4 linked regions of the Homo sapiens genome follow. The protein of the gene in region 4 interacts with the protein of the main gene of each other region in a biochemical or structural test. Each region holds a gene or a part of one and is shown on either strand. Other genes may lie near its edges.

Region 1 (8,295 bases), on a different chromosome or scaffold from region 4:
TAGAGCTGTTGCATTTATTTGATCATCACAATTATTTTTAAATTGCTTATTCTGAAAACCATTCTCTGGATACATTCTTTTCATCCAGCAAAAAGCCAGTCATTCAAATTTAACTTATAAAAGTAACCATCAGAGACTATTTCCTTCCTCTTATTCTAGCAGAAAATACTGCATTTCTCAGTTTCTTTTATCTACTCCTCATGTAAGTTGTTGAAAATAGTCTTAGCTTAAATTAGCATTATCAGAGGCATTGACATTACTTTTTAGAAATCTGTAAATTCTCTTAGGCAAAAAAAAAAAAAAAAAAAAAAAAAAAAAAAAAAAAACCTCCAAGGTTATATCAACAATTCTCCCCAAACTAATCATTATCTTTAGCAAAATCATTTCATTAAATAAGAATCTGTTGTACTAAATAACTATTTTATTGCACAAATGTTGCTTTAAGTACTGACACAAGCCTACAGACGCTCGGGGTCATTGGACTCCTGTTGTAAATAAATATTTTCAACAATTTGCAACATCAAATAGTTTATAAAATTACGCTGCCTGGGAAATATTGGCAGGGAAGAACAGCAAAGAGTAGCCAATCTATTCTGAGGATTGTTTTCTAGGTTAATGATGAAAGAAAAAGTGGCAGAAAGATATATCAAATACGAAAATACACAAGAATAGGAAGATGACTGTTTCTCAATATGTGTTCCTAAGAATTAAATTAGTTCAAAATAAATAATGTAATAAGTGATTTATACATCTTCAATCAGGTCTCGTAAAAGAAAAAAATCATTCTCCATTAATACAAGTGCCACAAGAATATTTGTAGACCTGTCTGGTACCCGTACTCAGTCCCCTCAGGGTTCCACTCCTTCTTAGGTCCCCCCTACCATCATTTGCAGTAGTAATCTCAAAAGAGAGACTCAACAGTAATCAAACAAGATCAGTGTTCAGATTCATTTCGGAAACTTTAAAAAAGTAAAAGTCCTAGGGGTGGGCAGGTGAAAGTGCTGTCAGGAGGAGCTAAAGCTCTTGTATCCAAGGTCAGGGTGAGCATAAAAGATGGGTGGAGGTTTGACGCTGAATCTTTTTCAAATTCTGTCTGCAACAGAGTGGATTTCTTTAAAACAGAGCTCTCCCAGACACGGTAAGATTGGATCAGAGGTCTGGCATTCCTGCAAGAGGTAAAAGCCAAGGGTAGCTGAAATGCCTGGGCAGGAATAAGGCAGTACTCCTCTGGAAGGATGCCTACAACCAGGGGGAGTTTGTTGTACACCTGAAACTGCTGATACAGACATCCCAAGATGACCACAAGTTTGGAGAGGCATTTATTCATTCCACAAATATTTAGGAAGGGCCTAATATAAAGAAGCCACCAAAAAATGAGAGAGAAAGCACTAGAGAATCAATTGAAGAGAGAGTAAAGGATGAGGTGCAGGTGCAAGAAGTACAGAGCGGTTTAAATAGCTAATGTGAGAGAGAAAGCACTAGAGAATCCATTGAGGAGAGAGTAAAGGATGAGGTACAGGTGCAAGAAGTACAGAGAGGTTTAAATAGCTAATGTGAGAGAGAAAGCACTAGAGAATCCATTGAGGAGAGAGTAAAGGATGAGGTACAGGTGCAAGAAGTACAGAGCGGTTTAAATAGCTAATGCATGCGAAGCTTAATACCTAGGTGATGAGTTAGTAGGTGCAGCAAACCACCATGGCACACGTTTGGTACCTATGTAACAAATCTGCACATCCTGCACATGTAACCCGGGACTTTAAATTAAATTTAATTTAAAAAAAAAGAAATCCAGACACCAGGTTTACCCAGAGAAGAATAAATGCCTAGTGGATAAGAAAGAAAAAGAAAAAAAGCTACGGGGTGAGGACAACTCGAGATTAGAGATTACTTGAACAGAAGGCAACTCAGAAAAGTATCTGGCAAAAAGTATCTGAAGATGTGAGAAAAAGGATGCAACATAGAATGCAGATAGCCTGTGGAATTCAAAGATGTCAGAGAAGGTCACGCTAAGACCAAGAGAGTGTGGGAAATAAGGAGAGGAAGGGTTTCCTGGAAGGGGTTGGGGCTCCTTTGGGATGCTGGAGAACAGGATGAAAGACAGGGAAGCTGAACTGCAGAACACAGTGCCTGGGAAAGTTTAGGGGAAAGAAAACAGGTGGGTGTGAAGCAGCACTGGGGCTGTCCAGGGGGAACAGTGGTGAAGTAGGGTTCAAGGCTAGAGGTGGGCAGACAGGCCCCCGAATCAGGATACCCCAAAGGAGTGGAATCTTATTCCTTCCCAGTGCTGTAGTCCCCTCTTCCGCCCTAGCCTAGGGGATCCTCTGTCGCCGGAGCCACTGGAACCCTAGGCCGTGCAGGGTAAGGCCGGGCCGCCCCCCAGCGGTCGGGCTCTGCGCTCGCGCCCCGGCTCGCCCAGCGCCAACTTTACAGATCCGCGTTCTCTCCCCCGAAGGCGGTCCCCCCTTCCGCCCCCCGCTCACCGAGGGCGCCGTCAGGCGGCTGATGCTCTCGCCCAGCGAGTCCAGGTTGACCCGCCTCCGGCGCTGCACCCTCCTGGCCCCGGCAGTGGCAGCGGCGGCGGCGGCAGAAGCAGCCGGGGTCGGGGCCGGGGCGGCGGCAGCGGCAGCTGCGGCCGGGCTGGGCTCCAGCGGCCCGGGCGGGCTCCGGCTGCCATTCCAGCAGAGCCTAGACAGGGGGCACTCCCCCTCCTCCTCCGGGCTGGTCTCCAGGTAGTCGGAGCCCAGGGAGCTGAAGGACTCGGACGAAATCTTCCTTCGAGACATGCTGCCGGCGGAGCTGCAGCGGCCGAGGCGGTGGCGGCGAGGACGCGAGCGGCGGCGGAGGCGGCGGTGGCGGGACCGGCAAGCGACAACGTTAAGCGCGTCGGGGCCGCGGGGCGCTGCGGTCGCGCCCGGCGGGGCGGGAGTCCCCGGGGCCGCGGAGCCCCCCGAGCCGGCTGCTCATGGCGGGAACTTGGGGCGCCGCCGCACCTTGGGGCCCGGGCTCGGCGGCGGCGCCGGGCTGGGCTGGGGGCCGCCGCCGCCTCTGCTGCTGCTCGCGCGGCGCCGCCTCAGCGCCCGCCTCGGCGCATCGCCGTGCGCCGCGCTCCCGCTCACGGGGAGGCTCCGAGAGTGTGTGACCGCGGTCGGCGGGGCGGGGAGGGCTGCGGCCCAAGCAGAAGGGGAGGCAGAGGCAGAGGCTTCTGCCGCCTGCGCGCCTATCTCGCCCCCTTTCCCTCTCTGCTCCCGCCTCTCTCCACTTGCTGCCCTGCCTCCCTCCTTCTCCCTTTATCCCCCCGCCCCCCCCCATGCTCTCCCTCCGCGGGAATCACGTGTCGCCATCATACTCATTGGGAGTCTCTGCCTCGCCTGTCGCCACGTTTCAGGAGCAACGAGGACACTTCGTTGCTGTCCTCTGCGCGCCCTCCCTGCTCCGAGGAGGTGCGCACAGGAGCTCGGGTCGGACTGAGGGCCCCAACCCCAAACGCCTTATCCTCGGCCCTCGGGAGCAGATGGGTCCCGGCGGCGCTGGTGGGGAGAAGGGCTCGGGGCTGGGGGGCGAGAGGCCTCCCCCTGGAGCCACCTTGGGGAAACCTGACAGTGTGAAGTGGGGGTTAGGGTCCATGTTGTCCTTTCTCCGAGTTTATTTAGGAAGTTCCGAGGCAAAAGGGAAAGGCCAAGCGTCCAGCCAGCCCACTCCAGAGGAGACGCTTTCAGGGGAAGGGAAGGACAGGGGCAACATTTTGGCGCCCATCCTGCTGGAGCAGCTCCTGGGGACTTGTGTTCCCCGCCTCGTGCGAGGCCGTGTGGGCGCGGAGCGAGCCCAGAAAGGGGCGGCAGTGAGGACAGCGTCTGCTCTGACAAGACAGCACTGTTGCTGAGCCTCAGCCGGGCGGGGTGCGCGGGGCTCCCGGCTCCGCTGGCTCCTCACTAGTGCTGGACAGCTCCGCTTGCCACCTATAGCCGCCTTTGCAGGCGTTGAGAACTGGAGAACAGTTCCTCCTCAAACGACCTAGCACCTGGCCCGGGGGAAACCGGGGAATGATCCCACGTCCCTCATCCTCAGGGCTCTTTGCGCCAAATATGCGATCTGTTTGCACCTGACTGCAAATGCTGCTCAGAAAGCTAAGGGGAGTAGGGATAAATGCTTCTCGAACTGACTCGCCACAGCGCGAGCATGTCTTGCCGCGAGTTTTCAGCTGTGCGGCTTCATTCCAAAGCTTATCTCTTTGCAAACCAGTCCTTCCAGCGCCTGACCCCACTGCCCCTTGCCTTAGCCCCAGAAAACTCTCATACTGGTTCTGAGGATAGAGTAAGAGATGGGAAGAAGGGGCAAATGACAGTATCCCGAAAGGGGTTCCAGGCTGTACTTCCCCCTGCAATGAAGTGGATGAGCACCCTCCCCAGCTCACCCGATCTGCGGAGAGAAAAGTTTAGGGGCTCTGGCTTTAGTTTCCCAGTGAAACCGAAGCCAAAGCGTTTTTTTAATTAAAGAACTGGTCCTTCCAGGTGAAGGCAGATGGGTTTTTGTGGACTGTGTTTATTTAAAAAGCAAAACAAAACCAAACCACAAAACCTGTGCTGTACCCCCACCACAATTTGCTTTTAACTTCAAATCTTCCCAAGTGTTTGTTAGGGCTTAAATATAAATGCTATTTGAGGTTTCATTTGGAAAAATCCACTCAAACTGGTTCAGAGACATACCTTTTTCCCCAGATCTTAAATGGGCTTTAAAGATAGAAAAGTGTGTACTATCACTCAGACACTCCCCCTTCAAATTATATATATATATATATATATATATATATGTGTGTGTATATATATGTATATGTATATACATATACATATGAGAAAGAATATATATAATATATATTCTTATATATATGTATTCTTTCTCATCCTGAGGAAGTTTCTTTTAAAATAATAATTGTTACAATTATTATTTAAACTGTTGTGCATCTACTATTGATTTCCCCATTACTTCAATTAATTCTATGTGCATTTGTGTCCATTGAAAATTAGACTCAAATTACACTTTTAATCATAAAAAATCATCAGTTTTGCTAAAAAAGTTTCACTAGCCCCTTTTTCTAAATTATAATGAAAATTACATTATTCTAACTTTGGGGTAATTGTTTAATATTTCTGCTACACAGTATCAATCAGCATAAAGGATTGGAGTTCCTAGTTCTCTTCTTTGGTACTGATTATATAATAGTCAAGTTCTTTCGAATTATAGGATTTTAGTTAGTATTAAATATACTAAATAGCATGTGTCCTTCACATTCTTTCAATAAACTGCTGCGCACACAAATAAATATTATGGTAACGGCAAATAAACTTCATATTGAACTTAGAATTGGAACTTTTTATTAACCATTCCAACTCTTGTCTCAAAGTCAAAATTATTGAGTGCAAGGCAATGAGTATCATTTGTTTCTAAAATTTGTAAGAGGCCCAAGAGCCTTCCTGTTTACACTGGAAGTTTATTGCCAGAAAGAACTCTGAACCTATGGGACATTTTTTCTTTGTGTGAACCATTTGAATCAAAGACTCTTTACAGAATCTAGCCAGATGAAGTCGTCTTACAATTTTCTCTATGAATTACACCCTGCCTTTGATCATTATTTTCCCATGGATTTTTAAACTATAAACAAATCAAGGCCTAGATATAGCCAGTACAACATCTGCTTTGCTTTCAAGGGTTTCCTTTGTATTTCTGTTCAGGAGCGGGGTTCAAAAGCTCTCAATATGAAGAGTGCTGTGTTTATACTAGAATTGACATTTTTAAAATGAAGCATAGCTATTCTCCATTAAAAAAAAAGAAGAAGAAGAAGGCTTACAGTTAGCAAAAGCAATCTAAATACTTTAGGAAGAGTAGTCTGCTGAGAATGAATAGTCTGTGCTCTGATTTTAGGAAAAGAAGCTTGCCCAAGCTCATACCCACAAATCCAGCCCTGCTGGATATATTGTATTTCAATAAAGTATTTAAAGGCCACTCTCCAACTGGAAAAGAAAAATGCAGAAATATTCTTGGTTTATTTGTGAAGTTGGCGTAGGCACCTGACAACTCAGATTGATCAAGCATTGGGAAAGACTTCCTAAAAAAACAGATTCTTCACTTTAGTCAAGACGATGACTATTTTACATTGAAACATAAAGTAACTATTGTTTGTGCGTGCCTTCCCTTCACATAAATCAATCCTATTTATAAACCCTTTCACTTATATAGCCTCATTTAACCTGATTTTCATCCTTCTCAGAGAAGTTGTTGAAGAAAAGTCACGTGTGTCAAATTCAAATCAAAACCACAATCAGTCCTCCTTCCCAAAATTCTTTGCGTTTCCCAGGTTCAAACTCTTTACTAGTTTCTTTTCATCTAACACTCCAGCAAGAAAATCTGCAAGATTTGCATAAGCGTTCCCTGGAGCAGAGCTCTATCCTGATAGAAGACTGAAGAATTTCTCCCTGTCATTCTTTACATAAATCTGGCAATTCACAGGAATTGTACATGTAATATTAAAGCAAGTTTTCTAAAGAAATATAGTAGCTGGTGAATCCTTAACTAGGGCAAGTTTTTCTGGATCCCTAACCTGGAAAATCACACACACATACACACACACACACTTCACACTGTTCACCTGCTAGTTTAACCCTATGTTTGTGTTCGTGAATGAGATCTGTCTACTCTCTCACACTTAACATACCCCCTCTTTTACAAGAGGGCAAATGTGCTTTCTCTGAGAAATACTGGCAGCAAATAAGAGATACTGTACTTCATATTGTTGCACAATTTTGTAAGTAAAACTAAATATTAAGGAGGGCAAATGTGCTTTCTCTGAGAAAGACTGGCAGCAAATAAGAGATACTGTACTTCATATTGTTGCACAATTTTGTAAGTAAAACTAAATATTAAGGATAATATCAAAGTGAGAAGAACCATCTGCTGTGTTCACATATAAAGGGACACATAGAAGACAATGTAATCCATTGTCCTATAGTTATATTTTATCATAAAACCATCCCAAAGGGGTAGGATTCTTGCTGCTCAAAAAAGGATAGAGGAGGAGAAGGCTGGGGGAAAGGAGGAAAGAAAGAAAGACAAGCAACAAAGTCAATGCTACACTTAGTAGAATTTGTGACCCAGAAAGATACTTAAGGGTGTAATAACTGACTTTTTTTTGATGCATCAAATCCATGACAGCAAGAAAGAGGCAGGTGATCAGTGTATGTTGGTGCCTCTGGCAGACACTACTCTCTCCTTAAGTGGCTTTACATTCAACCATGCACCACAGGAATCCATCCTCCTCTTAAGAAGAGACCCTATTAGTCAACAGTTTGAATACTAATATCAGCACCACAGTCTCCTACAACTCTCAGCCTTTTTGTCTGCATACTCAACAATCCCAGGTCTCTATACACTTTATTTAAATTGGGATTCTTAATCCCAACATAATAGGACATATTTTTCCAATTATAAAGTTATGGAAATTCTGGCACAGAGATTTAAAATATCTTCCAATGTCATGGAGCTGATAAATATTAAAGTCAGAATTCCAATCCTGACTACTAAGCCCATGCTATTTCCACTGAAACACTTTTCCTGCCTGTCTCTTGTCCTCAAATGTCCTAAAAACAGATTTTAAAATATGCTGAATTAAAATCACAATGTGAGTGGGTTATTGCATTAAAATAAATATTAAATACACAATTAACTTGTATGAATTATGTCCTGGAACATAATGTGGAAAAGCACTGACATGTGCAGAAGTTCTACAGTTCTCTGCTGATAACTAGCTCTGTGACCAAAATCAAGTTGTTAACTGCTCTGGGACTCAAACCCTTCACCTCTAAATCAAAAGTGTTGGATAAAATCCTTAGGTTATCATCAATCCTCAAAATTCTGTAATTTTTCTATTTGTTGAACTGTTCATTTCCTTTCCAGATATATCTTGTGCCTAAAAAATGTACCCACATACATCATCATAAGGTTAGATTCTCTTTTTCTTCCCTGTCATATCCTTTCTGAGAATTCAATTCTTATACAGATCCCTCCTTAAACCACCCAAGATCCTCTCCTGATACAAAACTGCCATGAACATGGTCCATGGAATTAAATGGATAAAAAAAAATTTTTCAACTGAATCCTATTTGGTTAGATGCTCACTATCTCTCTGTCTTTTCATAACCTAATTCTTCTGTCTGCTTTATTGTATTATATAAAGGAATTATATCTTCCTGTCTGCAGCTTATTAAGCTTGACAGCTAACAATAATAAGTATGAATTATCAATAAG
Region 2 (8,168 bases), on a different chromosome or scaffold from region 4:
AGCTTCATGCAAGGCAGAAGCTATATGACACAGTGGTTAAAGCCAAACAGATCGCATCGGTGCTTGCCCCAGCTCAACCACTTACTAACTGTACCAGCTGAATAAGCTATGAAACTTTCTGGGCATAAATTCTTTTTTCTGTAAATATGGATATGGACAGATCCACCTCAAATGGTTGCTACATGCTATCAGACAGTAGTAGCACAGTGCCTGGAATATGGTGAGCATTACAGAGTTGTCATTATAGTTATTATATACTACAGTTACTTTATACTCTTAGGAGTGAGTGGATTGGTTTGCCCAAGGTGTAGTAGAAACTGCAACTCAAACTCTTCTCTCAAATAATGGAAATCAATTCATTGACAAAGATAATCTTCAGAGAAGGATCATCCTGCCCTCATAACATGAAGAAAAATCCTTCATTACCTGTTTTTATTCATTAAGGATCACTATTAATGGACAAAAAATGGGCTGAATACAGGTTCCTGAGAAAAGACATTCTTCTCAAATTTGCCTTTTAGCAGATCTTACCAACATTTCTTACAACTGTGGAGTTCCTTTCAAGTTACTTGGATATATGTTTCTTCCATCAAGAGGAGAAAAAAAATGGACTAAAAGGCAAATGGGATACAAGAAAGATTAACCTGAATGACTGACTATATGAGAACTTCTTGAAAGCAGAATTACAGCCTCATTCATCTTGGCAACCCTGGTAGGGTGTCTAGACTGATTATAGGGGCTCAAATATAGCCCGTCTGTATTCTAGGTACTTACCACACACTTCATTCTTCCCAATATCACTTCAGAGTGGGTACCACCAATCTCATTTTATAGACAAGAAAAAGGTAAAGCCCAGATTGTTAAACAATTACTCAACCTTACAAAAGTGCAGAACCAATCTGTTCTAAAGTTAATTCCCTTTTTCCATGTGAATGTCTCAAAAATGTTTGGTGGATGAATACAGAATTAAAAGCAAATTCTGGAGATGCCTTTTATTTCAGATCCGTGATCCAGGAATATGACTCCAGACAAGGGAGGTTTATTTAGGTAATGTTGCTCTCCTTCCCTTTAAAAGAGCTCAAAGCCAAAAATATAAGCCAGACATTATCAAAGAGCAAATGAATGTCTAGAAATAAACTGAGCATTTATAGAAGGATACACTAATTTGAACATCGGGAAACAGATGTTAAAATTTCAGATCACTTATTATTCAAACATGCCTTGGGGGGAAAAAAGTAATATGTAACTGCAAACTGTTGTTGTATTTGCAAAAAATAGTTTCTGAGTTTGTAAGTTGTTACACAATACACTGAGTTTCTTACGGTTGTAATCTTTCCTTTCCACTGAGATCATTCAGTCCCTCACTTGGATTGCTTTAAATGTAATCTGCTCAGTCAGAAGTAGAACCTGGAGTTAGGATTGCTTCACCAGAGCTAAATATTAGTCACTTTGCTCAACCCTCATTTGCCCTCTGCTGTCCCCACCCAACTCTCATTTTTCAGCCACACTCCACCAAATGCATACTTAGTGCTTGTGGTTCCAGTAACACAACACATTCAAGCTAACCTGTCTGTGGAAAGTTTGCAACCCTCTGAGTTCAGACTGGGGTTAGCCATGAAGCATGGGGTGACAGGAAATGGCATCCAGTAGTCACTCTTTCCTCTGGGTCCAGTCTTTTTCCCATCACTTTCATCATTGTCCGCTATTTTATTCCTCTGCCGCATCTCCTTTGGGACCCAAGAGGGAAGGAGGACACGAAATAATACAGGAAAGGAAATCAAAAAACAATTGTAGAGAAACCACTCCTCGTTTCCTCTTCTATGTCTCGTGTGTGTGTGTGTGTGTGTGTGTGTGTGTGTGTGTGTGTGTGTGTGTAAAATTTTAATTTCCCTGGAATTGGAACTACAGAAGTCCCTCCTCAGCCCTACCGGGAAAGTGGCACTGGGCACGACCGCCCTTTCCAAGGCAGTCTGCAATCCTTTTCGCGGAAGTAGAGGAGAAAAGGGGGTGGAGAAGGGCGCCGCGATGCAGCATCCGCTGAGAAAACAGGCAGTTCGCACGTGAGCGGGCTCGCAGCCTGTGGCGCCACCTGACCGGGCCTGGCGCCCCCAATGTGGTGCAGTGGCCCAGCAAGACCAGAAGGCTCAGGCCCTCCTGAACCCTTGCCAAGTCAGAGGTCCCTTTCTGCCTGGGCTCAGGCCTCGCCCGCATATAGTTTTCCATCTGCTTCCACCCCTGCCATCCTTCCTGGGGACCAAAAATGAAGAAAGACAACCCCCCCATCCCCCGGTATTTCGTCTTCCCCTCACAGCCTCTTCCTGTCCTGATCATCTGCTCAAAGAGAAGACGTTCTCTCCACACACTCCACCCCCGCCTCCACCTTCTGCGGCAATGAAGCCACGCCACCCTAGGGGGCTCGGGGGCCGGATGCTGGCGGGGCGCGCACTAGAGACACGCCGCACTGGAAGCAGCCCTCGGAGTCCCGTGAGCCAGGGAGACTGGGGTGCACCGCGCCACGCTGAGTCTCGGTGTAAAAGCCGAGAGCGTGAGCACCTCCTGGCCGAAAGCACGCGAGGCGCTCCTTGCCCAGGACCCCGCGCGCCCCCTCAGTTCCCGGGCAGCTGTCGGCGCGCACTGGCTGACGCGAGCTCTGCTCCCGCGGCCGCTTCGGGATTTTTTTGTCTATATAAGGGCTCGCTGGCCAACTCTGCGTTGGCACGTTTGTCACAGGCTGGCCATTATTTGCACACACGCGTGCGGCTCCGCGGGCAGCTCGGGTCGCAGACGCAGGCTCGCCCTCCTCTTAGCCGGCACCTCCTCCTCCTCCTCCTCCTCTCCCCTCCCTCCCCAGCTGTACTTACTTTATCTGGTCTCTGGCGCAGGGTGGGCGCTGCAGCCCTCCGTTCCCAGCAAACCGCAGCCGATTCGCCTCGCTGTCAACGGGTGAATGGAATTATTTATTTATTTATGGCCCCTGACGTGTCCTCGCCCGCCACAGCCAGCGGAGAAGGAGGCGGTGGCGGGAAGGGGAGGCGCGGCTGCTGAACGCCCTTGTGGGTGCGGAGGAGCGCGCGCCAGGGGTGGGGGCCGGACAGGCTGCGGTGGAGGCCGGCCCGGGGGGTGGTGGGGGGGAGCCGCCTCCCGGTGCCTGGAGACCGACTGAGCATGCTCCAAGCGGCTGTCAAAGCTATAGGCACTTTCTCTATCGCTCGGGGCACTCCACTTCGGATTTTAGTTTTGACCAAGGAAGAAAGCCAAAAGGCAGGTAGATCTGTCTTTCCAGATGGGTCGTAACTTGCTGTATCCGAAGTACTCTGTAGCCTGACCTAGAAGACAGATGTGCGGTAGCTCTGTGCAACCCAAGCATGGGAGAGGAAAGCATGCAAAAAAAGAAGAGTCTGGCCGAATGCAGGGAGAATAGGAGATCCTCATTGTGAGCTTGCAGGGAAAGTGTTGAGCCATTTTTCAACTGAGGCCTTTTTGGGAGAAAGAGGTAGGGCACTGTTGGAGATTAGACTCACCAACCAAATCACTTCACGGAAAAAAATATAATTGACACCATAGGAGGAAGGACATAGAAAACAGCACCAAAAAACATTAAAAATAAGAAGGATTTTTTTTCAAATCATTTATAATTCCTTTCATTTTTAATTTCTCAAATTACTTAGTTCTTCAAACCAGCATTTAGTTATTTGACAACGAATAGTGCTAGAGATAATGGTAATTCTGCTGTCATTGGTTTGGTCTCTTCCCCTGTCTAAAATGTGCTTCTTGGTAAAACTGGAAAGAGGAAGGGCTGGAAGAGAACATTTAAGTAACCCCATAGATTGGGTTTCTTTAATATCTTTAAGTTAAATTGCCACTTTAGAGAAAAAGAAACTATCCAAAAGAATAATTGTAGGTTTTGGCTTGACAAGTCCTATTGCAGTTTGTCTACCAGTTTAGCTAGCTTTCTCCTCCTTGATTTCACAATCATTTTAAGGTGTGTTCTATGATTCTTCACATTTTACGAATTTATAAAAAGAGTTAAGTCATTTGGGTAAATTCACATTGTCTTTGCCACAGCTAGTCTGTTGTAATGGACGAAATTTGAATTTCAATTTCTGTAGCTATGAAATAAAAGTAATATCAATCGTGTTGATTTCATAAGATTTAAGTGAAATAATATACATGAAGTGGCTGGTAGGCATAATACAAGATGAAAAAATAATCGTGATTAATAACATCAAAATTACTGGAAGATAATTTTATTGAAAGAATGATATTTGAAAATGAAAAAAAGGCAGAAAATTACAGAAAGGATTTTATATTTTTAAGCTAAAAATGCTTAAATAGACATTTGTATAAGACATAATAGGCCTTTGATAATGATGAAATGTCTAGCAGTGACTATAAACACTTCATTTAATTAAAAAAAGTTAAACATTTAAAAGAAACAACATAAAGGCACATTTCAAGGTCATAGTCTTGAGTGTTTGCTATTGATATTTTTCCTGCTCATTCATCACTTTTATTTCCTGTCAAAGAAGAGGAAGAAGAAAGACCATATGCTTTCTGAATTTTGATCCTATTCTCCCTTTTCCTTCTCTTTGATTTTTCTTTTTTGTTGTTTTTTTCTTATAGTCCCATGTTCTTGACCTGTTTAACCTATTGCTGAATGCCAAACATCACTACTTATAGCATGATATCGTAACCTTCTTTTTAAGTCTTGTTTTTTCAACAATTAAAACTCTGGATCTAATTTACCTACTGTCACAGAGTTAGTATTTGGGAACTCATTTCTAAATTGCTTTGTTGTGATAGCTAGGTATGTTATGTAAAATTTGATTGGACTAGAAAGGTATCTGAAAGGAGGGAGAATCAGCTAAGAATAAATTCAGCCAGTTTATCCTATGACTTACAGTTTAATATTGTTAAGAAATTGAGAAAAAAATACAATTTAGGGAAAAAATAAGCCATATGATTAGAACTTGGAATGCTCTGGTAAAATGTTTGCCTTGATTTATATTCATAAGCTGAAATAACAGTGGGAAAAACAAATAGCAATACACTTAGCATTCTAGCAACTCATATTCCACAGATGAGCAAACTGTGAATACGTACATCACATATATACTCATGAAGTCCACATGTCTTTTACTATATACCCACATCCTTGTGGTTTAGGTTCTTTCTCCCTTCTTCATTCCTCAGTCATACACAATCTTCTCACATTTTTCTGTCTTTTATCATTCACTGCCCTCTTTTCCATATCAAACTTGTCTAAACCTTTTTTCCTCCTTTAATGCCCAGCAAATATATCATCACTTCTATAGCATTTTAAGGATTCTTTGTTAACAAATAAGGGTTAAGTTCATCTTTCTCTGTGATCCTGCCCATAGAAAATGATTTAGGCCTCTATCTGGGGCATTTTGTTTCAGCTTCACATATGACTATATTATAATATGATTTTTGTTTCTGTAGCCCCAATATATTAGGCTATTTGAAAGTAGAGATGACATTTTATTCATCTCTGGGATTGTCACAGGCATTTGAACCAGAGTGACTCCATCTTGAGTAAGGCCTGGGTAAAATGAGGCTGAGACTTATTGGGCTGCATTCCCAGGAGATTAAGGCATTCTTAGTCACAGAATAAGATAGGAGGTTGGCACAAGATACAGGTCATAAAGACCATGCTGATAAAACAGGCGGCAGTAAAGAAGCCAGCTAAAACCCACCAAAACCAAAATGGAGACGAAAGTGACCTCTGGTCCTCCTCACTCCTCATTATGTGCTAATTACAATGCATTAGCATGCTAAAAGACATTCCCACCAGTGCCATGACAGTTTACAAATGCCATGGTAAGGTCAGGAAGTTACCCCATATGGTCTAAAATGGGGAGAAACCCTCAGTTCCCAGAATTTCCCACCCCTTTCCCAGAAAACTCATGAATAATCCATCTCTTGTTAACATATAATCAAGAGGTAATAATAAGTATAAGCAGCGGAGCAGCCCATGCTGCTACTCTGCCTATGGTGTAGCCATTTTTTTGTTCCTTTACTTTCCTAGTACTCCTGCTTTCATTTATAGACTCATCCCAAATTATTTCTTGCATGAAATCCAAGAACCCTCTCTTGGGGTCTGAATCAGTACCCCTTTCGGGTAACAGAATCATCTATCATGCAGCACAAATCGTTGCAGATAGAAAATAGTAACGTTTGCCAAATGAAGAAAAGAGATGACAGTGTGGCTGTAGGCAACAGATATGTGGTAGAAGCTATTGGTGCTCACAATATCTATGATCTGCCTGGCTCCACACTTCCTGGCTTTCCTTACAGTTATATTGGGACCATGCAACTATGTAGTTCTAAAACAGTATGAATGGAAGTGACATGTGTAATTTCTGGTAAAGGGAGTTAAGACCCAGTGTACCTCCTTCATCACTCCCTTTCCCTGCCATAGTACCATGTTTCTGATGAACTAGCTACAAAATGGAATCTCTGAAAAAGAAAGAAAGACTGCTTGAATTGCACTGTACTTTGTGTGAGCAAGAGACCATTGTTTTAAGCCTTGGAAATTTCAGGCTCTATTTGTCATGGGAACAAAACCTAGCCTATTCTGACCAATATAAGATATTACTGAAAAAGACAATAAGTCAGCCAGGCGTGGTGGCTCATGCTTGTAATCCCAGCACTTTGGGAGGCCAAGGCAGGTAGATCACCTGAGGTCAGAAGTTCAAGACTAGCCTAGCCAACATGGTGAAAACCCATCTCAACTAAAAATACAAAAAAAAAAAAAAAAAATTAGCCAGGTGAGGTGGTGGGCACCTGTAATCCCAGGTACTTCGGGAGGCTGAGGCAGAAGAATCGCTTGAATCCGGGAGGCAGAGGTTGCAGTGAGCCAAGATCGCAACACTGCACTCCAGCCTGGGCAGCAAGAGCAAAATTCCGTCTCGAAAAAAGAAATTGTAAATCATAAAGGCATAAAATCCCCAATGAAACATTGAACTTTTGAAAGTGCACTAATGTGTCCTTAAGTCAAAACTAAAAATATAGTCTCATGACCCCAAAATTCATATAATAGCCTTTTCAGAGTAAGACTGTGAGATTAAATTAAGGGTGTGTGTGTTTATAAACTACACACAATAGATTTGTTATAGCTAAGTACAAAAGACCAGATGTCCCAATGCTCCCCTCAACTTGGGTGAAAACAAATGTACACCTGCCTTCAAGTGGCAACATACTATGGTTGAGATTGTAGCTGGCTAGCAGCTGTGAATATGATTGCTGTGACCTGGTTTCACAGATTATACAAACTATAGAAATATATCTCCACTACTTCTAGATTTAAATCTTGCGTATATCTATATAGGCTACTTTGGAAATATCTTCTATGAAAAACTCCCATAGGATTTTGGGGAATGACAATCTAGTCCGATTCAACAAAGCATATAAAAGGGGAATCAATTGCATTGGCATTGCTGTATGGTATGCCTTTAAATAATAGCACACAAGAATCTTTGGTTTAAAACAAAATGGGTTTTTTGGCTCCAAAAATCTCTTAACGGATTATGTATTAAAAAACTTGTTTGTTGGGGTATTTTTCTAAATTTACATTTTATCAATTATTATCTGTAAACTAAACTTAATGGATTCTGGGTGTTTTATAGATGCTTTACCACGTAAATATTCTGATTATTTTGAATGCATATAAGATTAGAAACTTAAATTAAAAGTTATCATCATAGACTGTAAACTTTTCAGGCAGAAATCTTGTAAACGGTGGCTAATGAGTATTAATATATTTTATGAAATGAATCAATGATGACTGAATGTGTTATCAAGAAGCTAAGGCTTTAGTGCCTTTTTCTGTACAGTTGATCTTTGCTGGGTTCCTTAACCTCTCTGAGTCATATGTTTTTACTTTAAGATCTTAATAATTATTAATAGCTTCACTTTCTACAATTCAATGATACTTGCGAGCACTTCAAGGGTGCAAAGATCCACAGAATTTATGCATAATCATAACTAATGAAGAAAATATTTATGTAGTGTTTTTCTATTAAACTAAAAATAAATGTTTACTTCTCAGATTTTGGAGAACAGTGTTAATCAGGATGCTTTATAAAATGTGACCATAAATTTACCCGCTTAATTTTTAATATTTGTATTACTTGCCATGTGCCTGG
Region 3 (7,151 bases), on a different chromosome or scaffold from region 4:
CACTGCAACTTCTGCCTCCTCGATTCAAGTGATTCTCCTGCTCAGCCTCCCAGGTAGCTGGGATTACAGGCACATGCCACCACGCCCAGCTAATTTTTGTATTTTGAGTAGAGACGGGGTTTCACCACGTTGGCCAGGCTGGTCTCAGAGTCCTGACCCCAAGTGATTCACCTGTCTCGGCCTCCCAAAGTGCTGGGATTACAGGTATGGGCCACCACACCTGGCCTCAGGTACTTTCTCATATTAGGATTTAACAATTTTCCCTCTTCCCAGAGCCTGATCTCTATCCTTTTTCTTTCTCTCCTTTACTGGGAGAGAATCTCCAGTTTCTCCACATGCTCTTTTGCAGGTCTGAATGTTCGGATTCTATTGATTTCATGCTTGTTGATGCATTACTTTGGAATTGCTCTGACCTTATTGCTCAGCAGGTGCCTGGTGTGTTCCTAATTGAGCTCTCAGAGCTTGGACTTTTCCTCATGGAGCCTTTTTGTGTCTCTCTCTTCTCTGCTCTGTCTGCTTATTTTATTGAGCACACACGTGTATATCACAAACCATGGGCCAGGGGCTGTGAGGGCCTTACAGATATTAAGGCATTTAATCCTTACAACAATCCAAGGAGTGGTACTATGAGTCTCCATATGCCACAGATAAGGAAACTGAGACATGGACAGGGCGAGGCACTTGCCCAAAGTTAAAGTTAGGAAGTGGTAAAGGTGAGAATTGAACCCAGGCAGTCAGGCTCCAGAATCTGTGCTTTTTTCTTTTGAGACAGAGTCTTGTTCTTTTTCCCAGGCTGGAGTGCAGTGGCAAAATTACAGCTCATAGCAGGCTTGATCTCCTGGGCTCAAACTATCCTCCCGCCTTAGCCTCCCAAGTAGCTGGGACTATAGGAGAGCATAACCAGGCCCAGCTAATTTGTTTTCTTTTTTTTTTTTGAGATGGAATCTCACTGTGTTGCCTAGGCTGGAGTGCAGTGGCGTGATCTCGGCTGACTGCCACCTCTGTTTCCCAGGTTCAAGTGATTCTCCTGCCTCAGCCTCCTGAGTAGATGGGACTACAGGTGCACACCACCATGCCAGGCTAATTTTTGTATTTTTAGTAGAGACAGGGTTTTGTCTTGTTGGCCAGGCTGGTCTCAAACTCCTGACCTTAGTTGATCCACTTGCCTTGGCCTCCCAAAGTGCTGGGATTATAGGCGTGAGCCACCATGCCCAGCTGAGTCTGTGCTCTTAACCAACTTGCCATGCTGCCTCTCAAACGCCCATCCTTCCATGTAGGACCCCATCTGCCCTCTGGTCACGTGGGCCCCTGTATGTCCAGGCTTTGCTGTGAGTTCTACAAAAACACCAGCCTGGGAGTGTTGTGACACTGAGTCAGGTTCCAGGCCTGCACATGGTACGGGGGTCTCTCAGCTCAGGCAGAGGGTCCCTGCACCTCCCCAGTACCTGGGATGACCGTGATGGTTTTGAGGGCCCGCAGCACCCGGAAGGTCCTCAGGGCTGAGATGTTGCCCAAGTCCACAAACTCTGTCAGGTACCTGGGTAGGGGGTGGAGGGGGGTGGGGACTGTCAGAGCCTGGGGTGGGTGGTAGGACAGAAATCAGGGCTCCTCCAGGCCTGGGATGAGGATTCCCAAGAAATTGGGGGTACCACAGGGTCTGGGGGGCAGGGCAGACACCCCCAAAGCTCCTCTGGGAGCCCAAGGGTTGGGAAGGACAGTGCAGGAGCTCTGGGGGAGTGGGGATGGCAAAGATAGCCCGGCTCACCCAGCAGGTGAGGACCCATGGGTCTGTGGGTCAGGGCTGCCTCATGTGATTATCAGGAGTCCATCAGGAGAGTGCTGAGCCAGACCCTGAGAATGGCAGCTTCTAGAATTGTGCAGCTCCCCATCTGCACAACTGACCGATGTCCCCTGCAGCCCTCAGCCCAGGCAGCTTCCCTCTTTAAGGCCTGGCCCCCTCCCCTCACCCACCCCAGCCTCAGGATGTCCTGGGGCCCCTGCTCACGCCATCATGATGACACTGAAGTCCAGCCAGTTCCAGGGGTCCCGGAGGAATGTGAAGTCGTCGACACAGAAGCCTCGGGCCAGTATCTTGATGAGGGACTCAAAGGTGTAGATCCCTGTGAAGGTGTACCTGGGGGGGAGAGGGCCGGCCGGGACAGGCATGTCACCTGGGTAGGGGTCAGTGTGGCAACGACAGACCCCCAGAAGGGAGGGACACAGAAATGAAATATGCCACTCAGGTGGCTAAGGACACTAGCGAGTGATAGCATGGCCACCCCAGGGACTCAAGGTGTGGATGAGGGTCACAATGACAGTGTGTCTCCCTGAAAGACAAGAGCAGCACCACACAGAGGTGCAAACACCTGAGATGGGCTGTGTCCCAGGGCTGGGGAGCTCAGGGAGCAGGGAGACTTACTCCACATTCTTGGACCAGGGAGGCGGGTCACTCATGGTCATGAATACGCAGTTGGTCAAGATGGTGATCATGATGAACATGCTGAACAGCGTGGGGCAGGGTCAAGGAAAGTGAGGAAGCAGCTAGGATGGGAGGTGATAGAGGGTCTCCTGGGCCACAGCACCCCATCTCGCCCATCCCTAACCCCTCCCGCCTCTCCCATCTTGGGCAGGATATGCATGGATGAGCACCTTGATGGCCCCGCGCCTGACTACGCTGAAGGGGCTCAGCAGGTAGAGAGCAGGTGTGGCGGAGAAGCGGAAGATGGCCTTGCCCTTGTTGAGTACGATGAAGGTCTAAGGTGGGAGAGAGGCTGTGAGACCCAGGGACAGACAGACAGGCAGACAGATGGATGGATGGCAGACAGACAGAGGAAGCCTTCCCAGGCCCAGACCTTCTTATTGCTGTAGTAGGGATCCAGGTCCTCCAGGGGGATGCCGATGACCTCCGGCGGGGGGTCTCCGTAGATCATGGGTAGGTTCTTGCCAGCCTCCAAGTCACTTCGTGGCTTCCGTTCGGGCTCCTCAATCTCCATCTGCTTATTCCGCTGCAGCCGGGCCTCCTCCTCCACCGCCCGCTGTTCTATGGCTGCCAGTGACTCCCGGGTGAAGGGGCGCAAGCACTCAGGGCCCAGAGGCACCAGGGTGCACAGAGATGGTCTGGCCATCCTCGCATCCTGGGCTCAGAGACCAGAAGGGTGGTGGGTGGCCTGGGGAGCTGCAGTGCGCAGCCCCGGGGTGCTGGGCGGCCGCCCCTCCCTGGGCGGGCCGTCCACTCCTCACCTCCTGCTTGCCCAGTGGCCGAGCCGGGGAGGTGGGCGTGCAGACTCTATCAGGACTGGGAGATGTGCCTGCAAGGTGCTGCTGCTGCACAGGTGCTGGGCACAGAGCATCACCCCTGGCCCCCCCACCACACTTTCCCCAGAAGTGGCAGCGGCTGCCCTCAGGACCGACGGCAAACCAACCAGATTCTTTGTGGCCTTGGGACTTGGGGTCAACACCCCAGTGCCTTCGACTGCCTCCTGGGCCCAAGCTCCGGGAACTGTGTGGCTTCAGCCTAATGGGACAGAGAGAGAACCACAGCTGGCTGTGCTCAGGCGACCTCTGGATAGGCCAGGATGAGGGGCCTGGTTGGGGGGTTAGATCAAAGTGGGACTGGCACAGGGACTTCACCCTGAGGGCCGACGTGGATCCTGATATTGGCCACCTGGAGATGTAGGTGGAGACCATGAAGGTGGCAGCCAGGCTCTGTGCAAAAAGGTTGCTGTGATTGATTAGTGATGTCTGCCAGGGGCGCAAGGAGGAAGACCGTGGTGCCTCTGCCTGTGTTTGCCATCCCTGGCCTGGAGGGAAGGGAAAAGAAAGATGGGGGTGGGTGTGGATTCCTCTTTCCTGATCTTTGGGGTACTTGGTGTTGGGCTGGGAGAGGGAAGAAGAAAGGGCCCTGGGCCCGGCAGGGGTCTCCTAGCAGTTCCCTCCCACAGCCCTGGGGGCTCTAGCCCACTGGGCAGGCAGGGTGAACTGGGAGAGGAACATTGCATCTGGAGAGCTGCAGGTGCTAACGTGGAAGAGAAGACGTACAGGGAAGGTCACAGGGACAAGGAGATGGACAACTCCAATGGTGGGGGCAGGGCTAGAGCTCCTGGGGACTGCTTTTGGCTGGTGGTCCCAGCACAAGCTGGATTGGGGGAAGGGGCATCCACAAGGAGCCTTTGATGCCTGTGAGCATTGTGTGGTCTGGGCCCCACCTGGCCCCTCTCCCCTTCTGCCCAGCCCTCCAGAGCCTATTCCTGTGGAAGGGAAGGGGGATCACTTATTGCAAATGGCCCTGGGGGAATGACCACATCAGCAGGCAGTTGCAGTGAGACCCCTGCAGACCAGCTGCAGGCAGCCACTGCCAGACCCACATGGACAGACCTGGAGCCACCCCTGCACCACAGGGACCTGGACAGACCCCTAGAGACCCCCAAAGCCACACCTGAGGGTGGACCTCTCCCAGTGGGCCTTGACCCTTGCAGCAGCGCCCCTGCCCTGGTCAGCACGGGCGCTTCTCAGGCTTGCTCAACAGGTGGGGAGGGTGGCCAGGGAGAGGCCAGAGCCACTGGGCAGAGCTGGCCACGCCCTTGTGCCTGGCTCCCAGCTGCTCCTTACAGCACCCAGGGAGTCGTGTTTCCACGGGGATGACTCTGCTTATTCCTGCCAACCCTGCCCTCAGCTGCTCACTGGCCCCTGTCGTGAGCGTGGGCGTGCATGTGCACACACTTGCACACACAGGCACATGCACGCACACCCGGCCTGGAGCCACCCCACATGCAGACCTTCCCAGTTGCATCTCACAGCTCTGTCATATACCTTGCCACCTTCCTCCCCATCACCCACTCCACGTACACCCCCACATGCTGCTTGTCACTACACAGAAGGCGCCAACCAGCCAGATGGCCTTGAAGAGACCCCAGGGCTGCTGTGCACCCACCCAGTCTGCAGTCCCTGCTGTGATGATCCTCCTGTCCTGATACTGCTCACTCTTTTCATTACACGAGCCCAAGTAGGGCCACAAAAGCCCACAGACACATAGTCTGGCTCCCAACCCCAGCACTCGAGGAAATGACTCTCACCTGAGTCACCAGAGCTCCCCAGGGGACAGATCCAGTGTTTTCTTCCCCGCTGGCCCTCCTGAGCTTCCCACACCGCACACCGCCTTTCTTCTTGGGAGCAGGACATCACCTGTGCGTCCGGCCACTCTCCCCAGCTCTGCTCTGGGACCTGCCCCTTCCCTGCCCCTGGAAGATGCTTCTTCTCTGGGGCCTGCTCTGCAGCCTGTTTTCTTTGCACAGCGTACACCTCTCCCTTCAAAATGTTCACTTCCTCCTAATTTCCTCTTCTCCTACTCCTCCATTACCCCTGAGGTCTGGCTGTTTTGTAATGTGAGGGGAGGAATGTCCTCACTGGTTCCACTTGCTGAAGCTGGCTTTGGTTGGTGGCTGCCCGAAGCATCATGGTGGTAGATCTGGCCAGTTCCACACCCTACTGATGCTCCCTCTCCAGTGTCACTGCCCTCTCCACCCTCCACCCCTCACCTGTTCTGTTCAAATAACCTCCCCGCGTGGTGACATGCTCCTGTAGTCCCAGCTACGAAGGCAGGAGGATCCCTTAAGCTCAGGAGTTCGAGGCTGCAGTGAGCCATGATGGTGCCACTGTCCTCCAGCCTGGGTGACAGAGTGAGACCCTGTCTCAAAAACCAACCAAAGAAACACCTCCCACCAGGCTCTCCCCTAGACTGCCATAAATATTTGTAAAGTCACAAATTTCACCCCCTGCTTAAATCTTCAATGGCTTTCCACTGCTTAGGAGTACGTCCTAAGCCCTACCCAGGGCTCCCAAGGCCCTCCATGATCAGATCCCTGCCTCATTGCCTACCCTTCCCGCATCCTCTGGCCATGCTACCTCCATTTTCACAAATGGGCCAAGCTGTTTTCCACCCCCCTGCCCTAACCCCCATGCCTTTGCTTGTGGTTTGCTCTCCTCCCAGAGCACCCATCTTCTTTGTCTCCCTGGAGAGCTTCCATTCATCTTTCTAGACTCAACCCACACAAGAACCACCTCCTCCAGGAAGCCCTCCCTGGGTACCCTGGCTGGGTGGAACTCTCCCCTTGTTTGTGTCACCAGCTCAATAAAAGTTTATCAAATGAATAAGTGAGTGAATCACAGGGACACTCTACCTTAGCTCTTTTCTCCTTTAAGCATACCCTGAACCTAAATCATAACCAGAAACCATATCTCCTCTGAAATCACCACTTCAAACTCTTCCTTTGCCCCTGCCACCTTCTCAGCTCCTGGCTCAGGGGCCCGGTTGCTATAATCTTTGGGCACTTTCAGTTCTTTGACCCTGCACTTTCTCCCTTTCCACCTGCTTCTGACTTCATGTCCCTCCTCATCTAGGCTTACTTAGAAGATCATCATTCTGGTCCCTCCTCCACAGCTCCCAGGGAGAGATCCCAGAAGGAGGGATCTCTCTCCTTCTATCACACAGTCCTGGGGAACCCCTAACTGCATGTCCCCAGCTCTGGTTTTCCAAAGTCAGCCCCGAGCTGGAGAAATGTGGCTGGGGAAATGGTATGACTAGGCTGAGCTCACCGTAAATTCATGGTCACATATTCTGGGTTTGTCCTCAATCCTGCCAGCCCTGTAGTGTGGATTTTTCTGGTAGGCTCACTTTTCCACTTTTTGAAAACAACTATTTCATGCCTTCTCCTCTTTCCTCAGACCTCCGCGCTCCTCCCCATGAGCCTCCCAGCTGATGGTCTTCCCTGAGGAAGGAAGAACCACTACACACACACTGTCAAATCCACAGAACCATCTCCCCATCCCACCCCGTCTTCCTCTATCCTGTTAGAATAATAATAAGAAGCAAGGGTCAGGCTTTCCTGGGGCTCAGGACCCCAGCCCCTCTTGCTTCTCAAAGACCTCTCCAGGTGCCCTCTCTCTACTGCCCATCCACCTCTCCCCATCTGTGAACAGACTCTAGTGTCCCCCACTTTAAAAACAATGGCAGTGGTGACAAAACTATTCTCCTGGCCCCACACCTCCCTGCATCTATTGCCCTATTTTTCTTTCCTCTTCACAGTAAAACTTCTTGGAAAGTGTCTACACCAGCTGTCTTGACTTCCTTACCTTTCATTCTCTCTCCAATCCAT
Region 4 (8,127 bases):
TAACAATTGATATTTTAAATTCAAAGAATAGGATAAACAGTAGATTAGTTCTAGTTAAAGAAAGAATTAGTAAACTGGAAGATATCACTGAAGAAATTACTCAGAATGCAGTATGGAAAAAAGTAAAGAGAAGATATGAAAGAAAGTTAAGAGACATGGAGATTTGAGTAAGATATTCTAATTTAAGAGATAATTAAAGATTGGGCAAGAGGCATTTGGCCTTCTTTGATAGAAAGCTTTGCCTGCCACCTTCAGGCTGGGTGCAGTGGCTCATGCCTGTAATCCCAGCACTTTGGGAGGCTGAGGCGGGCAGGTTGCCTGAGGTCAGGAGTTTGAAACCAGCCTGGCCAACATGGTGAAATTCCGTTTCTACAAAAATACAAAAATTAGCTGGGCGTGGTGGCATGTGCCTGTAATCCCAGCTACTCTAGAGGCTGAGTTGGAAGAATCGCTTGAACCTGGGAGGCAGAGGTTGCAGTGAGTCAAGATAGTGCCATTGCACTCCAGCCTGGGTGACAGAGTGAGACTCAGTCTCAAAATAAAATAAAATAAAATAAAATAAAAAACTAAATAAAAAGAGGCTGGGTGCGATGGCTCACACCTGTAATTCCAGCACTTTGGGAGGCCGAGGTGGGCGGATCATCTGAGGTCAGGAGTTCAAGACCATCCTGGCCAACGTGGTGAAACCCCCTTTTTTTTTTTTTTTTTGAGACAGAGTCTCACTCTGTCACCCAGGCTGGAGTGCAGTGGTGTGATCTCAGCTCACTGCAACATCTGCCTCCTGGGTTCAAGAGATTCTCCTGCCTCAGCCTTCCAAGAAGGTGGGACTACAGGCGTGTACCAACATGCCTGGCCAATTTTTTGTATTTTTAGTAGAGATGGGGTTTCACTGCAGAAACCCTGTTTTTACTAAAAATACAGAAATTAGCTGGGTGTGATGGCGGGCGCCTGTAATCCCAGCTGCTTGGAAGGCTGAGGCAGGAGAATCGCTTGAACCCGGGAGGCGGAGGTTGCAGTGAGTGGAGATCGCGCCACTGCACCCCATCCTGGGCAATAGGAGTGAAACTCCGTCTTAAAAAAATAATAATAATAAATAAATAAAAAGAAAAATATTTAGCGCTAAATACTTAACAACATAGCAAATAATTTGGGAGAGTAAGTAATTGAAGATAATAGAGTGCTCTTAATACAACTAGAGAATATAACTTCCAAAAGCAGAAGGAGAAATGTCCATTTATGTGATGTTAAAAAATGTAAAACTAAACAGTAGATTGTTTAGGATTTATGCATAGATTTTTTTTTTTTTGAGACGGAGTCTCGCTTTGACACCCAGGCTGAGGTGCAGCAGCACATCTTGGTTCACTGCAAGCTCCGCCTCCCAGGTTCACGCCATTCTCCTGCCTCAGCCTCCTGAGTAGCTGGGACTACAGGCGCCCGCCACCACGCCCTGCTAATTTCTTTTTGTATTTTTAGTAGAGATGGGGTTTCACTGTGTTAGCCAGAATGGTCTTGATCTCCTGACCTCGCGATCCGCCCGCCTCGGCCTCCCAAAGTGCTGGGATTACAGGCATGAGCCACCGTGCCCAGCCAAGTTTTTGTATTTTAGTAGAGACGGGGTTTCACCATGTTGGTCAGGATGGTCTCGATAGCTTGACCTCGTGATCTGCCCACCTCGGCCTCCCAAAGTGCTGGGATTACAGGCTTGAGCCACCGTGCCCAGCTAATTTTCGTATTTTTGTAGAGAATGGGGTTTTACCATGTTGGCCAGGCTGCTGTTGAACTCCTGACCTCAGGTGATCCAGCCGCCTAGGCCTCCTAAAGTGCTGGGATTACAGGTGTGAGCCACCGCGCCTGGCCAGAGCTTGCAGAGACTTTAGTAGGCTGGGCAGCTCCCCTCTCTCCCTTTTTTTCCCCTTCCCCCTCTCCTATTCCTTGGGAGTGAACTGGTTTTCTCTGGGAGCTCTGCCTGGGGCTTGGCAGGGAGCCGGGCCTATGTGTATCTATCTGGGAGGCCAATTTCTGAGCCACAGCAGAGAGGCATCGGCTGACCACAGTGTAGGGATAGAGCATTCCTGCAGCTACAGGGTTCTTGGGGGTAGCTACAGGTGATTGGCACTGCCTATCAAGTGTGATCACAAACACACACACCCATACTCACATACAGACGTATACATATGCATACACACGTCACTGTTTCCTTGGCTCTACATCTTCTTTCTGTGTTAGCCCCTTTGCACACATCACTCCTTTCCCTACTTCCTTCCTTCCTGTTATATCCACAGGAAACTGTCCCCCAGAGGAGAAGCCCTCTCTTAGGGCTCTTTCTCAGTAAGTTTGTCTGGGCCTCATTAAGTCTTTTTTAAGCAGGGCAGTACGTGGGGGGACTTTTAAGGATCTGGTTCCAGGCTTTGGTCTTGGGAAAGGAGCTTCAATTCCCTGCTGGTCTCTTGCCTCCTGCCAGGTCTGTCCTCCCCTCCCTTCTCTACCATTGGAGTGAAGCTTCCACAAGCCAAGTAGGCTGTAGTTATTTATCACAAGTGCTTACCCCAAATTCCTCAGGCTGTCCTACAATCTTTAAGCACAGTCATACTTTTAAGATATCAATGCTTATATACAATGCTATATTCCTTCCCTGCCTCCCTTCTCTCCTTCCTTCCTCTCACTTTCTTTTATTTATTTTTGAGACAGGGTCTTGCTCTGTCACCCAGGCTGGAGTGCAGTGGCATGATTGTGGCTCACAGCAGCAGCCTCAAACAGGCCTCCTGCTGCAGCTTCCTAAGTAGCTGGGAGTACAGGTGCACATTACCACGCTTGGCTAATTTCTTTATTTTGTAGAGATGGAGTCTCGTGAAGTTGCCCAAGTGGTCTCAAACTCCTAGCCTCAAGTGATCATTCCTCCTCGGCATCCCATATATATATGTATAAAAGACCCTGGGTTCTTTTTTTAAAACCTGTGTCTCTCCTGTTTTGACACCTACCACTCTAACTTAAAACAATTCCTTTTTTTTGTTGTTGGTTTTTTTTTTTTTTTTTTTTGAGACGGAGTCTCACCCTATCACCCAGGCTGGAGTGCAGTGGTGCAATCTCTGCTTGCTGCAATCTCCGCCTCCCGGGTTCAAGTGATTCTCCTGCCTCAGCCTCCTGAGTAGCTGGGATTATAGGTGTCTGCCACCACGCCCGGCTAATTTTTTTATATTTTTAGTAGAGATGGGGTTTCACCATGTTGGCCAGGCTGAGTCTCAAACTCCTGACCTCGTGATCTACCTGCCTCGGCCTCCTAAAGTGCTGGGATTACAGGCATGAGCCACCATACCTGGCCCCCTCTTTTTTTTCTTGATGGTATCTTATGTGGAGGATTTTACCCAAAAGTTCAGGGAGGCTAAACACTGGTGTAGTCCTACTTATTTATTGCTCAACATATCCCAGCTAGGAATGGAGGATAGAGACAAGGAGCAGGTATGAAGGCCAGTTGAGCTGTGTGATGTGGTGGATTTTTCAGATTACAATCATGCTTTACCTCTGTATTTGTCAGCTGTCTAGCAGAGTGGTTCAGTGCCCAGGCACTGGTGTCAAACAGGCCTGGGTTTGAATCGCAGCTCTTCCTCACTCATAAATGTGTGACCTAGGCCAATTAGACTAAATCCAAGTTTTCCCTTCTGTATAATAGGGGTGCTCTTTTTTCTTGCTCTGTCACCAAGGCTGGAGTGTGATGGTGCAATCACAGCTCACTGCAGCCTGGACCTCCAAGGCTCAAGCGATCCTGCCACCTCAGCTGTGATTACAGGTGTGAGCCACTGTGCCCAGCTGGGGGTGCTCTTAGCTACTCCAGGAGGCTAATGTAAAGATAACACTTGGAAAATATTCTGCCAGCCCTAGGTAAGAGTAAGCATTCACTAAATGAAAGTGATTATTTCTATAGAATAGGGAGTCACAGTTTACCACGTGTTTTCACATTGATTTAATCCTCACACCAGCCCAGTGAAGTAGGTATTATTATGATCCACATTTTACAGATGAGGAAATTGAGGCCTAGAGCAGTGACGTGAGGGGACCAAAGTCGACTTGGAGCTAACAGAGGCAGCAAAGATTAGAAACCATGTCTCCAGTCGCCCAGACCCAGAGCCCCACCTTGCAACCCTCTTCCCACACACCAGTTCTGTTTTTTTTCTGCCAGGCCTCAAAGTGTGGGACTTCAGGCTTTTCTATACTCGACTGTGAACACAGCCAGGGGTTAATCTCTTAAACTTCCCTCCAGTTTTGAAGTGGGGATCCTGCCCACACCTCCCCCAAGCCCTAAGCGGTGTCGGTAGCGGTCTCCTCCAGGGGGCGGGGCCTGTCATCTTTAGAAGCCACGCCAGCGATAAGCCACGCCCACAGACCAAAGCCTCGACCCCCACCCCCCATCCCCCGCCCTCCCCGATAGGAAACCAACTTCTTCCTCAGCTCCCCAACTAGCAACTGTGCCCGCAAGGTCTCTCGCGGCTCAGCATCTACCTTTTTTTTTTTTTTTTTTTTTTGACACAGGGTTTCGCTCTGTCACCCAGGCTGGAGTGCAGTGGCGCGATCGCGGCTTACTGCAGCCTCGAGCTTCTGGGCTGTCATCTAGGCCTCCCAAAGTGTTGGGATTACAGGCGTGAGCCTCCACGCCCAGACGGTGTCTACCTCTTAAACTCAAGCCTTGGAGTCCAACGCTCTACCATACGCAGCCCAGCCCTCCGCCATATGCAGCCCAGCCCGATGCCCAGTGCTTCGCACCAGGATACGTGGTTCTGTCTCTTTTTCATGCGCTCCCACGTCCGGGAGTTACAGTCCCGGCCCTCGATGGGCATTCCGAGCGCCGAGCCCCCTGCGCGGGCTCACTGGGTTCCGCCCCCGACGCGAAGCCCCGCCCCCTGACGCCCCGCCCAGCACCACGCCTCCCGGGCTTTCGCCTTACTTAGTGGCCCGCCCCGCCGCCCTTCTGACCCACCCCGCTAGGTAGTCCCACACGGCGGCCCTCGGCTCCCGGGCCCCGCCCCGGCCTCCTGCATTTGCCCGAGGCCCCCTCCCCAGCACTGGCCACACCCCAGGGTAGCCCCGCCCCCAGAGCTCCTCCCCCAGCGGCCGGGGTAGGGTGGCGGCTGGCCCAGCCGGGCCCCCGCTGCCCTCTGCCCTGGGCGCTTGGTCGGAGCGGGCTGGGCAAAGCGGGACAGGGCGAGCGCGGCGGCCCGGGGGCTCGGAGGCGAAGATGGCGTCCGGCAGGCGCGCCCCGCGCACCGGGCTGCTGGAGCTGCGCGCCGGGGCGGGCTCGGGGGCCGGCGGCGAGCGATGGCAGCGGGTGCTGCTGAGTCTGGCGGAGGACGTGCTGACCGTGAGCCCCGCCGACGGCGACCCTGGTCCCGAGCCCGGCGCTCCGCGGGAGCAGGAGCCCGCGCAGCTCAACGGCGCCGCGGAGCCGGGCGCCGGGCCCCCGCAGCTGCCAGAGGCGCTACTGCTCCAGCGGCGCCGCGTGACGGTGCGCAAGGCCGACGCCGGTGGGCTGGGCATCAGCATCAAAGGTGGGCGCGGGACACCGAGGGCGCGGGGTCGTGGTGTCTGGGGGCAGCCGAGGGCGCAGGGGGCTGGCAGCGCGCCCAGGACATGGAGCTGGAGGCTTCCTGTCTGGGGGTAAGGGGGGTCTGAGGAAACAGGTAACGGAGGGCACTGGGCACACCAAGGTTGGAGGGGGTTTCAGTAGTTGGTGGCCTTAGGGGGCACGGAAGACACAGGTGTGGATAAGATTGTGGGAGCACCAAGGACACGTGGGTGGGAGTTCTGTGTGGAGGCGGGGGGGTCTGAGGGGTAACCAGCATGAACATCAAGGACAAGAGGGGTCCCCCGGAAAGCAGAGTGTGGAGAAAGGGGGTTGAGGCCGGGACACCAGTGGGACAGGGAGGAGGGAGTCCCTGAGAAGCAACCAAGGTGGGTGCAGAGGGGAAGCCTGGAGTCTGGGAAGCACAGGGGTGGATAGGAGGCCTGGGTGCAGGCACAGGCTGGGGTCACAGGCAGAAGGCCAGCAAGGACCTAGGAATCTAAGGACCCAGGAAGGCTGCAGGGAGCCCTGACAGCTGGATTTGGGTCTCCTGATCTGACTATCTCCACCTTGCACAGGATAGAGCTTTCAGCCCCCAGGACTGACCGCTAGTGGGGTGCAGTTAGGGTGCAACCAGACTGTGTTTGAATCCAGGATCAGCTGTGTGAGGTTGCAAAAGTCCCGTCCCGCCTCTGAATCTGTTTCCTCAACTGTATAAGAGGATGACAGAGTTGTGATGTTTCTGAGAGCAGGGCTCACCACACCAGCACACTGTAGGTGCCTAGTTAATTACTGCTGTTAGCGGAGAGGAAAAATGGAGGCCAGCAGATACTCCCAAAGCAACTAAACATAGTTGTTAAAATCCTTGCACACCCCCAGCTGCTGGGTTCACTATTCCTGCCCATCTGTTTCTCAGGGTCCCAGCCCCCAGCAGGTGCTTTGGGAAAGGGTATCAGCCTTTGTCTCCACCTTGAATACATACCGTACCCTCTGGGGTCTCCCTGGTACTGGTTCTGTTGACTAGTGCCTCCAGACCGTTTGGCTTGGCTGAGGCGGTGGGGATGGTGGTGAATGCCACCACTGTGTGCCAGGTGCTGTGCCCAGGACACTAGTCTCATGATCCACTTCATCCTGGCAACAAGTGGTGAAAGGTAGGGAGTATAATTCCCATATTGCAGGTGAAGAAACTGAGACTCAGAAAGTTAAAATGATTTTCCCACGATTACATAGTGAGTGTCAGTGCTGGGATTTGAACCTTAATTATCAGCTACTGTCCCTCAGAGAGTGCTCAGGGAAGTTGATTCTTTCCTGTAGAAGGGCAGATCCCCAGGCAGCCAACCAAGAGGGGCTAAAAAGGAGAAATGAGAAAATGAGGGTATGGGCACCAGTCTTACCCCCAATCTCCAGCATGGGATAGGGCAACAGATGAATCCAAAAATTATACACTCAGTGTGTCAAAGCAGGAAGGAACTTATTCATACAGAATTCCATTCTGCAGATGGACACACTGAGACTCAGAGAGGAGCAGGGACTTTGCAAGGTCACACAAAGTTACTCCCCAGCTCCATAATTCTAGGTGGAGGGGAGGGTACTTTTAGGAGACTTCAGGTATTTCCATTGGATCCAAATCTGGGCTCCTGTTGCCATGGTAACCCCTCCTATAAAGTCTAGCTTAGTCTGAGGCAGCCATGAGTGATCATAGCTTCAAACTGAACTGAAGCCCCTAGTTTCAGGTGGGGGAGGGCAGATATAAATAGAAACCCCTTCCTCTCCTAGACTTCAAGCTCTGTGCAGATAAGCAAACGGTCGGGCCTGTGTGGGCGTCAAGAGAGGTGTTCCAGTCCCAGCTCCGCCACCAGACTTGTGTGACCTTGGAACAATGACCTCCCACTCTGGGCCACTAATTCTTCATCTTCAGTATTCTGGGGATGAGCCAGGAGTGTGATATCTGAGGGCCTGACTTGTCGTCTGTGGTAGGGCTAATAGTGTTGGTTCTGGAGCCTGGAGGCCTAGGTGCAAATACTGGCTTCGCTACTTACTAGTGGAGTGACCTTGGACAAGGGGCTTCCCTCCACACTTCAGTTTCCCTAATAGGAAACTGAACATACCTATGTGATGGGGTATTGTAAAGACGCAATGAATCAACATTGAAAGCATTTAGCACAGTGCTTGGCATTTGGTAAGTGCAACTAAGGTGAACTCTTATTACTATTTCTTATTTTAAAAGGGCATTTAAGAGTTTGGTAATAAAGATGTTTAGTAAAATGTATTAGCTTCTTTTGTATCCAAGATGCCATTCAGGCAGGTTTTTAGAATCTCTAGACTCTAAGGCTTTGGTTTCCAGCCTGGACTTTGGATTGTAAAACATTATGATTGCTAAAGCAGTCTTTTGAGGCCATAGGAATAGCCGACTTGTCTCTTGATTCCGGTTTGAGGGGTATCAGTGGGTTCCCACATTGTTGCCTTTTTGTGTGTGTGTGTGAGACAGTCTTGCTCTGTTGCCCAGGGTGGAGTGCAGTGGTGCGATCTCGGCTCACTGCAATCTCCACCTCCTGGGTTCAAGCAGTTCTCGTGCC

The links.
Region 1: the proteins of SNTA1 (region 4) and GUCY1A2 interact in a test that uses a peptide from one of them, tested with the Homo sapiens proteins (3 studies listed by BioGRID and IntAct, with this or other methods).
Region 2: the proteins of SNTA1 (region 4) and SLC16A7 interact in a test that uses a peptide from one of them, tested with the Homo sapiens proteins (3 studies listed by BioGRID and IntAct, with this or other methods).
Region 3: the proteins of SNTA1 (region 4) and SCN4A interact in a test that uses a peptide from one of them, tested with the Homo sapiens proteins (2 studies listed by BioGRID and IntAct).

What each region holds. Positions count from the first base shown.
Region 1 is NC_000011.10:107,015,273-107,023,567, forward strand, and holds the start of GUCY1A2 (guanylate cyclase soluble subunit alpha-2), read right to left. Parts: upstream 3,205-8,295; 5' UTR 2,784-3,204; coding exon 2,481-2,783; intron 1-2,480. UniProt on the Homo sapiens protein: Has guanylyl cyclase on binding to the beta-1 subunit. Isoform 2 acts as a negative regulator of guanylyl cyclase activity as it forms non-functional heterodimers with the beta subunits.
Region 2 is NC_000012.12:59,590,930-59,599,097, reverse strand, and holds the start of SLC16A7 (monocarboxylate transporter 2), read right to left. Parts: upstream 3,070-8,168; 5' UTR 2,862-3,069; intron 1-2,861. UniProt on the Homo sapiens protein: Proton-coupled monocarboxylate symporter. Catalyzes the rapid transport across the plasma membrane of monocarboxylates such as L-lactate, pyruvate and ketone bodies, acetoacetate, beta-hydroxybutyrate and acetate.
Region 3 is NC_000017.11:63,969,717-63,976,867, forward strand, and holds the start of SCN4A (sodium channel protein type 4 subunit alpha), read right to left. Parts: upstream 3,203-7,151; 5' UTR 3,126-3,202; coding exon 2,853-3,125; intron 2,755-2,852; coding exon 2,636-2,754; intron 2,510-2,635; coding exon 2,420-2,509; intron 2,135-2,419; coding exon 2,006-2,134; intron 1,538-2,005; coding exon 1,446-1,537; intron 1-1,445. UniProt on the Homo sapiens protein: Pore-forming subunit of Nav1.4, a voltage-gated sodium (Nav) channel that directly mediates the depolarizing phase of action potentials in excitable membranes.
Region 4 is NC_000020.11:33,440,721-33,448,847, reverse strand, and holds the start of SNTA1 (alpha-1-syntrophin), read left to right. Parts: upstream 1-5,084; 5' UTR 5,085-5,227; coding exon 5,228-5,537; intron 5,538-7,535; exon of another isoform or gene 7,536-7,730; intron 7,731-8,127. UniProt on the Homo sapiens protein: Adapter protein that binds to and probably organizes the subcellular localization of a variety of membrane proteins. May link various receptors to the actin cytoskeleton and the extracellular matrix via the dystrophin glycoprotein complex.